Linked DNA regions of Homo sapiens: region 1 is linked to region 2. The links come from fine-mapping of genetic effects on gene expression. A gene starts in region 2. The other region holds a variant in brackets. All regions are shown on one strand. Distances are between the middles of the regions. Region 1 overlaps LOC105372441 (a long non-coding RNA gene). Region 2 holds the start of KLK4 (kallikrein related peptidase 4).

Evidence for each region.
Region 1: its variant is fine-mapped to the expression of KLK4 in lung (TOPMed, PIP 0.99).

What each region holds. Positions count from the first base shown.
Region 1 is chr19:50,839,883-50,845,103 of GRCh38, reverse strand. The region is part of intron 2 of LOC105372441 (a long non-coding RNA gene); the gene reads right to left. Among named protein-coding and RNA genes, the nearest start is that of KLK15, 8.9 kb to the right of the region's middle. RefSeq lists enhancers at 167-688, 689-1,211 and a silencer at 4,497-4,684. The variant G/C (reference allele first, on the strand shown) is at 2,792.
Region 2 is chr19:50,908,948-50,914,168 of GRCh38, reverse strand. It overlaps KLK4 (kallikrein related peptidase 4), which reads left to right and starts at 2,774. Exons shown (of 6, transcript NM_004917.5): 1 at 2,774-2,830; 2 at 3,420-3,491; 3 at 4,755-4,917. The coding sequence starts at 3,431.

The DNA.
Region 1 (5,221 bases), 69 kb after region 2:
CTAGGAAGCAGGACTAACTTGCAGCTCCCACTCAGATGGACAGAGCAGCATGTGGAGACTCACGTCTTGAATTTTTGCTCCAAGAACTACTGCAGGAACATACCAGGAAAGCCAAGAGAACCCACAGACCCTTTGAAGGAAGCACATTGCTGCTGCAGGCTCCAGGAGACAGCTGAAAAACTGTGAGTGCTCAAAGTGTGAAAAGTGTGAAGGGGGGATCATCCGCCCCTGCACACACATCCTCACTGGGGAATCTGAAGGTCCAGATCATGGGAGAAGGATTTGACCTTACCTGGAGCCGAGATGAACTTAGAGAGCTGAATGAAATACGGGGGGTAGAGAAAGCAGCAGGAAGAGCCCTGAGGGTACTGTTGGTCCCCAGGGAAGCCATTTCTGACTTCATCTCACAGGGGTCCTTGGGGAGGGCTGCCAACGGAATTGGGGAAAGACTACAGGGAGAAGGAAGCTTCCAGCTGAACTTTGCAACAATTTCAACTGAACACGAAGTTTCCTGGACAGAACTCAGGGGAGGGGGTGAACTGTGAGTGCAGACATGAGCACAGAAGCTGCAGCAGGTGGGGAGGCACGAAACCTGAAAGCCCTGCTTGCTTTCTCAGCAGGGAGGCTTGTAGCCTGGGGCGAGTTCCCAGCCCTGCGCACCTGCTGCCTGCAAACAAACTGTGCATTGATTGGGGATGCACACAGTGGGAATGAGACCAGCTTTTTGGGCTGCATGGGAGCTGGGTGAGCCCTGAAACTGCTGGCTTTCTCCCACTTCCCTGGTGACCCACATGATGCAGTAGAGGCAGCCATAATTCCCCTGGGAACATAACCTCATTGGCCTGAGAACCACACCCCACCCCCACACAGCAGCCACAGCGACCCTTACCCAAGGAGAGTCTGAACTCAGACACCCCTAACCCTGCCCCCACCTGATGGTGTTCCTCTACCTGCCCTAGTAGCCAAAGACGAAGGACATACTCTCTTGGAAGCTATCTGGCCCCATCCTCCACCTGAGAAACCTGAATACTTATCCAGGTAACCCTAGGGCAAGCTGTTTTCCTCCCTGTACTACTGCAGCTGATGCTGTCTTGAAAGTGCCGTCTCCTGGCTGGAGGCCAACCAACACAAAACCAGCGCACTAAAAAATAATACAACCAAGGAACCCCAGCGAGTCTACTTTACTCCTCTGTTACCTCCAACGGAGCAGGTGCTGATATCCACAGCTAAGAGACCTGAAGATGAATCACATCACAGGACTCTTTGCAGACACCCCCCAGTACCAGCCCAGAGCGCAGACGCTCCACTGGGTAGCTAAATCCAGAATCTGAGCAGCCCTTGAGACCCAGATCTTCCTTCTGACATAGTCTACAAAGGAGAAGGAACCAGAAAACCAATTCTGGTAATACGACAAAACAAGGTTATTTAACACGCCAAAAAGATCACACCAGCTCACCAACAATGGATCCAAACCAAAAAGAAATCTCTGAAATTGCCAGAAAAAAAAAAAATCAGAAGATCAATTACTAAGCTACTCAAGAAGGCACCAGAGAAAGGTGAATACCAACTTAAAGAAATTTTAAAAAGTGTTACCGGATATGGACAGAAAAATCTCCAGAGAAATAGCGTAAATCAAAAACAATTACAATTTCTGGAAATGAAGGACACACTTAGAGAAATGCAAAATACACTGGAAAGTCTCAGCAATAGAATCAAACAAGTAGAAGAAAGAACTTAAGAGCCCAAAGACAAGACTTTTGGATTAACCCAATCCAACAAAGACAAAGAAAAAAGTATTTTTAAAAAATGAACAAGACCTCCAAGAAGTTTGGGATTATGTTAAACAACCAACCTAAGAATAATTCATGTTCCCAAGGAAGAAGATAAATCTAAAAGTTTGGAAAACATATTTGAGGGGAATAATCTTCCTTGGCCTTGCTAGAGATCTAGATATCCAAACATGAGAAGCTCAAAGAACGCCTGGGAAATTCATTGCAAAAAGATGACCACTGGTCGGGCGTAGTCGTTCACGCCTGTAATCCCAGAACTTTAAGAGACTTAGGCAGGCCAATCACAAGGTCAGGAGATCGAGGCCATCCTGGCTAACACAGTGAAACCCCTTCTCTACTAAAAATATAAAAAAGTAGCCGGGTGTGGTGGCACGCACCTGTAATCCCAGCTACTCGGGAGGCTGAGGCGGAAGAGTCTCTTGAACCCGGGAGGCGGACGTTGCAGTGAGCCGAAATCGCACCACTGCACTCCAGCCTGGGCAACAGAGTGAGACTCCATCTCAAAACAAAACAAAACAAAAAAAAGATGACCCCCCTAGGCACATAGTCATCAGGTTATCTAAAGTCAAGATGAAGGAGCATCAGGTAACCTATAAAGGAAAACCTATTAGATTGACAGCAGATTTCTCAGCAAAAACCCTACAACCTAGAAGGGATTGTGGTCCTGTCTTTAGCCTCCTTATACAAAACAATTATCAGCCAAGAATTTTGTATCCAGTGAAACTATTGGCAGAACACACAACAACTCCGGGTCAGAGACAAAGGACTTTATTACTCATGGCACAGCCGGCAGCATGAGATTCATGTTCACATGGGCTCACCTTGCCCCCCAGGTCCTACAGGGATGATCAGAGTGGCTCAGGCAGATGCTGCGCACACAGTGGTTTGCGTCAATGCTGGGGAACCTCTGTTTACATGTATTTACAAATCTTCAATCTTATAAGGGAGATGCAAGGAAATCTGCTTGACTTTGAAACTCGGAGAGATATTATCTTTGTTAT[G/C]TCGGACTGCTGATCCACCTGCCCCGGAAGGACATGTTGTATTTACTATCCTAGCCAATAAATAAATCATTATGGAAGGACATTATCTTTATTATCTAAGACAGTGAACAAACATGCTCTGATGCTCTAGAGAAACATCCATAAAAAGACAATCTGGAACTCAAAAGTGGCTAATACCTTTTTCAGGAGACAGGCAGAAAGGTAAGAGAGCCATGGATAATTGTCTCCTAACACCATTCAGTTCATGCTCTCGATGCTTCCCTACAGGATAATCTCAGGCTTCCCAACCAGGCATTCAAAGTGCAGGCATTTGGTCTGGGATACAAAACCCAGCCTCAGTTTACCTGGTTTTTTTGTTTGCTTGTTTGTTTGTTTTTGAGACAGAGTCTCACTCTGTCACCCAGGCTGGAGTACAGTGGTGCGATCTCGGCTCACTGCAACCTCCACCCCACCATGGGTTCAAGCGATTCTCCTGCCTCAGCCTCTTGAGTAGCTGGGATTACAGACACACACCACCACACCTGGCTAATTTTTGTATTTTTAGTAGAGACAATGTTGGCTAGGCTGGTCTCAAACTCCTGACCTCAAATGATCCGCCCGCCTCAGCCTCCCAAAGTGCTGGGATTACCGGCGTGAGCCACCACGCCTGACTTGATCCTGTCTTTCTCATGCTATCTTCTCACTCCCCGTTTCTCACGGTTTTCTGCCTTCACCATTCCCTCCCTCTTTTGATGCCTCTTCCTCACTCCAGTCCTTACTTTATCTCTTCTACACTCCCCGACTCCACCCTCCTTTGTTTTTGCCCGGTCCCTATTTCTGCAGGCTTCTCTTTCCAGCTCCCCGTGTCTCCTTCTCTAGACAGGAAGCACCCATCTAAAAAGGTGAATGCTCCTGCAGTGAACAATCATCTCCAGGCCCACCTGGCCAAGGCTAGAGCATCCCCCAGCCCTCCTGACCTGCGTCCTGAGGTGTGGAGTCAGGTGCAGGGGAGAAAGGAAGCTTCAGTGACAGGTATAGCCCAGTGGTTCCCCAATGGGGCAAAGTTGTCCCCTCCACCCGCCCCACCCTCCTCCACCCATCCAGGGGCACACTGGCATTTTCTGGCAATCTCATCACATTCAGGTTCTGCAAAGACACACATCGGGGGGGTTGCCACTTTATTTGTGGGGTGCAGAGATGGAGGAAGAGAGAGGAGAGAGGGTCTGCCCTGAGATAGTAGACAGTGACAGGTGGTAATGCTCTCCACGGACCACTGAGAGGGACCTGGGGACGCAACGCGCCACACACACAGCAAGGGTGGAGCTGAAACCTGGCAAGAGCCACATTATTCTTTTTTTGCTAATTTGTAATTGTTGTGGGTACATAGCAGGTGGATATATTTATGGGGTACATGAGATATTTTAATATAGGCATATAATGTGTAATAATCACATGAGGGTAAATGGGGTATCCATTACCTCAAGCATTCACCCTTTGTGTTACAAACAATCTAATTATATTCTTTTTGTTGTTTTTAAATGTACAATTAAATTATTATTGACCACAGTCACCCTGTTGTGCTATCGAATACTAGATCTTATTCTATTTCCTCGTACCCATTAACCATCCGCACTTCCCCACTACCCACATACCCTCACCCTCCCCAGCCTCTGATAACTATGCTTCTACTGTCTATCTCCATTAACTCAGTTGGTTTTGTTTTTGTTTTTTGTCCCTATTTCTCCAGGCTTCTGGAGATGGAGTCTCGCTCTGTCTCCCAGGTCGCTGGAGTGCACTGGAGAGGTCTTGGCTCACCACAACCCCCTCCTCCCAGGTTCAAGCACTTCTGTGTCTCAGCCTTCCAAGTAGCTGGGAATACAGGCACGCGCCACTGCGCCTGGCTAATTCTTGTATTTTTAGTGGAGACAGGGTTTCACCATGTTGGCCAGGCTGGTCTTGAACTCCTTACCTCAGGTGATCCACCTGCTTCAGCCTCCCAAAGTGCTGGGATTACAGGTGTGAGTGCCCGGCTAATTGTTTCAATTTTTAGCTCCCAAAAATAAATGAGAACCTGTGAAGTTTATCTTCTGTGCCTGACTTATTGCACTTAACATCATAACCTCCAGTTCCATCCATGTTGCAAATGACAGGCTCTCATTCTTTCTGATGGCTGAATAGTGTTCCACTGTGTATATGTACCACATTTTCTGTATCCATTCATTTGTTGATGGACACTTAGGTTGTCTCTAAATCTTAGCTATTGGGAATAGTGCTGCAATAAACATCATTCTTGGCAATACCACAGCCAGCTTTCCTGCACTGGGAGGTGGGGTGTTCCATGATGACTTTTTACAATCTCAGCCTGGGCAACATATCAAGACCCCATCTCCACAAAAAAAAAAACAAAACGTAAAAATTAGCCAGGTATGGTGGCACACACTTGTAGTCCCA
Region 2 (5,221 bases):
GAGAAAGATGGACAGACACAGGTGCAGAGACAGACAGAGAGACAGAGACAGAGATGGGAGGAGAGAGACACAGAGAAAGATGGACAGACAGGTGCGGAGACAGACAGAGAGACAGAGACAGAGATGGGAGGAGAGAGAGACAGAGAAAGATGGACAGACACACAGGTGCGGAGACACAGACAGAGAGACAGAGACAGAGATGGGAGGAGAGAGAGACACAGAGAAAGATGGACAGAGACAGGTGCGAAGCCACAGACAGAGAGACAGAGACAGAGATGGGAGGAGAGAGAGACACAGAGAAAGATGGACAGAGACACAGGTGCGGAGACACAGACAGAGAGACAGAGACAGAGATGGGAGGAGAGAGAGACACAGAGAAAGATGGACAGACACACAGGTGCGGAGACACAGACAGAGAGACAGAGACAGAGATGGGAGGAGAGAGACACAGAGAAAGATGGACAGACACAGGTGCAGAGACAGACAGAGAGACAGAGACAGAGATGGGAGGAGAGAGACACAGAGAAAGATGGACAGACAGGTGCGGAGACAGACAGAGAGACAGAGACAGAGATGGGAGGAGAGAGACACAGAGAAAGATGGACAGAGACAGGTGCGGAGCCACAGACAGAGACAGAGATGGGAGGAGAGAGACACAGAGAAAGATGGACAGACACAGGTGCAGAGACACAGACAGAGAGAGAAGGCAAGGTGAGACAGAGACAGGAGGAAAGAGAGACACACAGGGGCAGACAGAGACAGACAGAGATCAGAGGGTCACAGACAGAGGTCAGAGGGAGAGCGAGAGAGAAGGGATCAGAGAGAGAAAGGGACAGGGACAGGGAAAAGAGAGACAGAGACAGAAACCTGCCAGGGCTTCCTGTTCTGTGGTCCCAGCCTATGTCCCGTCCTGCCCAGAGTTATCTGGGGGCGCACGGGCCCAGGACAGAGTTGGGGGAGGGTCTCACTTGGGATGCTTCCAGTCTGGCAGGTGAGAGAAACAGAGACAAGGGGGAGAGAGACAGAGATGGGACCAGAGAGGCAGAGGAAAAGAGAGCCAGAGAGAAAGAGAGACAGACACACGGGGTGGGCTGTGGGGGAAAGAAGTAAGGAAGGAGAAGGAAAGAGTGTTAGAGACCCAGGAGAGACAGAGAGACACAGAGACATTCCTGCCTCGTCGCGGTCACCTGCGGGCACTATCCCTCACCCGCGCCGGCTCCGCGGTCTACACCCACCCACTCCTTGGATGATCTCACCCGGCCTCGTGGCTGTAAACACCACCTCTCCCCTGATGAGTCCCCGCTGTTTCTCGGCAGTCCTGACCTCGGCCTGCCCCTCCGTGCACCCTCCGCGGTCTACGGCACCCTCTCACCCCCCACCCCCCTTCCCGCACCTATGCGTCTCCACAAGATCCGTAGAGCGCAAGCCAGCAGACCAAGCCTCCACGCCATCCTTGGCCCCTCTGCTCCTGGCCCCCCACTTTCCATCCATCGGGCAGTAACTTGGCTCCACATGCAGAGGGGACCCCGTGTCCATTCACCTCTCTTCTCCCTTGACCCCGTCACCTCCCACCTGGGCTGTTGCCACTGCCCCCCGCCCCGCCCCCACCATCACTCTCCAAGCTGGAAGTTTTTAAAAAGTAAATAAGATTATGTCACTCCATCCTCGTGCTTAAAATCCATTGCACTTAAGTAAAACCCAAGCTCCTTAATCCTGGTACGTAAACTCCTGCAGGCCCGCCCGGTTCCCGGTCTGCGCTCCTACCCGCCCTGCCCTCCTACCCGCCCTGCCCTCCTCTGGCTGGAGCCAAGTTCTCCCCTGCACCCCGCAACCGCCCCTGCTGCGGCGACCCTCCTCCTCCTCTTCCCTGGGATCTCAGCTTAAATGTTCCCCTTCTCTGAGTCTCCCCGACCACCACCTTATATGCTGGTCCCTGCAGTTTTCCTTTATGGTCTGTGCCCCCGGGTAGGACGCGATCCCCAGTGACGAGGACTTTGCTGGTTCCTCCTGTGGCCCCAGCACCTGCCGCAGAGCTCGGAGTGTGGTAGGCACTCAGCTGCTTTTCACTGAGCGAAGACTTTTTAGTTCTCCCGCTCACCGAGAGCCTACAATGTGCCTGGCACTGTGTGCCTTTCCCTGAATTACCTCTTTGAATCCACTTGGGAAATGGGGCATAATGGTCACTCCAGTTTTACAGTTGGAAAAACAGGCTCACAGGGGTGCAGTCACTTGCCCAAGGTTCCAAAAATAGTTCGTGATGTAGGCTGGATACGAACCTGGGGAAATTTGCTGGAGAAGCACAGAAAGAGAGGGATGAAGGAGGAGGGGAGAGAGAGAGAGAGATTTAATTTAAAAAGAGAAAGAACATGAGAGAGAACAGGAGAGAATGAGAGGAAATGAAAGAAAACACGAGAAAAATAATGAGAGAGAGAATGAGAGAAAGAAAGAAGAAGAGAAAGAGAAAATGAGAGATACAGGCAAGAGAGAGGTATCTCATGAGAGAGAATAAGAACATGAAAAGAGAAAGAATGAGAGAGAGAGAGAGAAAGAAAAAGGAGAGTGGAGTCTAGGATCTGGGCAGGGGTCTCCTCCCTGGGTCCCTAGACCCTGCTGCCAGCCCCTTCTGGGCCCCCAACCACTGCCTGGTCAGAGTTGAGGCAGCCTGAGAGAGTTGAGCTGGAAGTTTGCAGCACCTGACCCCTGGAACACATCCCCTGGGGGCAGGCCAGCCCAGGCTGAGGATGCTTATAAGCCCCAAGGAGGCCCCTGCGGGAGGCAGCAGGCTGGAGCTCAGCCCAGCAGTGGAATCCAGGAGCCCAGAGGTGGCCGGGTAAGAGGCCTGGTGGTCCCCCACTAAAAGCCTGCAGTGTTCATGATCCAACTCTCCCTACAGCTCCATGTCGCTGGATTCTCAGCCTCTGTGCCTTCTGTCTCCACATCTCTCTAGACAGATCTCTCACTGTCTCTAGTTAGGAGTCACTGTCTCTAGTTAGGGGTCTCTCTGTCTCTCTGAATCTATATCTCCATGTCTAACTCTCAGACTGTCTCTGAGGATATCTCTCAAGCACTCTGTCTCTCCGGCTCTGATTCTCTGTGTGTCTTCCCTCCATGCTTGTTTGTGGGTGGCTAGACACCATCTCTCCCCATTCACAGATGGCTAGATGCTTTCTCTAAACTTTCCTTTCTACCTAGTTCTCTCTCTCTCTCTCTTTTCCCATCTCTCTCTCTCTTTTTCTCTCTCAGTCTCTAAATCTGTCTCTCTAGGTTCTGGGTCCATGGATGGGAGAGGGGGTAGATGGTCTAGGCTCTTGCCTACCTAATAACGTCCCAGAGGGAAGAAAGGGAGGGACAAAGAGAGGGATGGAGAGACTTGGGCTGAAGATCCCCAGACACGGCTAAGTCTCAGTCCTCATCCCCAGGTGCTGACGTGATGGCCACAGCAGGAAATCCCTGGGGCTGGTTCCTGGGGTACCTCATCCTTGGTGTCGCAGGTATCTGAGTATGCGTGTGTGTGTCTGTCCGTGCTTGGGGGCACAGTGTTTGTTAATGTTCAGGTGTGACTCAGTGTCCTCTTGCTTGTGACTGCAAAGCTGCCTGTGAGACGGTACCGTGTTATCCGTCCCCCATGGCTGTGCCCCTGCAACTCCTTGTATCGTGGTAAATTTGTGTGTGGCAGTGTGCCTGGGTGTGTGGTTGTACCTGTGAGACTCTGACAGTTTGTGCCTCTGAATATCTGGTGGAGTGACAACAGTGTAATGATGATATGGGGACAGGGGAAGCCGAGGGTGCAGGAGATTGTGCTTCCTGGGGCGTGATCCATTGCTGGGAATCTGTGCCTGCTTCCTGGGTCTTCAGTCCTGAGATCCCCCTCTCCCATCCCCAAGGAACTCACCTCACAGGACTATAAAACGGTGTTTTGGTGTGCATGGGCTTGTGGCTTGGTGTGACTGTGGGCAAGGCTGGGAGAGGATAGGAGTGACTCGGCGCAGGACCGACTCTTTGAGCATCAGTCTGCGCAGACAAGTGACCCGATCCTTGCTCCCAGCAACAACTCCACCCCCTGAGCTTTAATTCACCCCGAAGGACCCGATCCTACTGCTATGAGCCTAGACTCCTCTGTTGAACCCCTCCTGACCGTGGCTTTGCACCGCGATGGCACCAGTCTCACCTCCAGAGCTCACCCCAGAGCCCTGACTCCGCCCCAGAAGCCCTGGTCCCACCTTCTGAGACTGCCTCTAGCCATAACCCAGCTCTTGAAGCCTTGATGGCGCCCCTGCGCTGTAACCCCAACCCTAGGAGCACTGATCCCGCCTTCTCAGCCCACCCCCATGCCCTGACTCTCCTCCCAGGAGCCCTGACTACCCTGAATCCCTGACCAGGCTCCTGCACCGTGATCACCGCCCCTGGGAGCCCTAGGCCTATATCCTGGACCAGCCCCTGAAGCTCCGATCATGACCCCTGCACCATAACCCCACCCCCAGGAGCCCTGGGTCCGCCCCCTGGGCCCGCCCCCAGCCCTGACTCGGCCCCCCAAGAGTCCTGACTGCTCCTGAAGCCCTGACCACGCCCCTGCTCGGTAACCCCTCCCCCAAGAGCCCTGGGCCCGCCTCCTGAGCCCGTTCCCAGCCCTGACTCCGCCCCGAGGAGCCCTGACTGCTCCTGAACCTCTGACCACGCCCCTGCTCGGTAAGCCCACCCCCAGGAACCCTGGGCCCGCCTCCTGGTCCCGATCCCATCCCTGACTCCGCCCTCAGGATCGCTCGTCTCTGGTAGCTGCAGCCAAATCATAAACGGCGAGGACTGCAGCCCGCACTCGCAGCCCTGGCAGGCGGCACTGGTCATGGAAAACGAATTGTTCTGCTCGGGCGTCCTGGTGCATCCGCAGTGGGTGCTGTCAGCCGCACACTGTTTCCAGAAGTGAGTGCAGAGGTAGGGGGAGTGGGCAGGGCCTGGGTCCGGGGGCGGGGCCTAATATCAGGCTCATCTTGGGGTGCTCAGGGGGAAACAGCGGTGAAGGCTCTGGGAGGAGGACGGAATGAGCCTGGATCCGGGGAGCCCCAGAGGGAAGGGCTGGGAGGCGGGAATCTTGCTTCGGAAGGACTCAGAGAGTCCTGACTTGAAATCTCAGCCCAGTGCTGAGTCTCTAGTGAACTAAGGCAAGTTCTTGTCCCTGAATTTTTGTGAATGAGGATTTGAGACCATGGTTAAGTAGCTCTTAGGG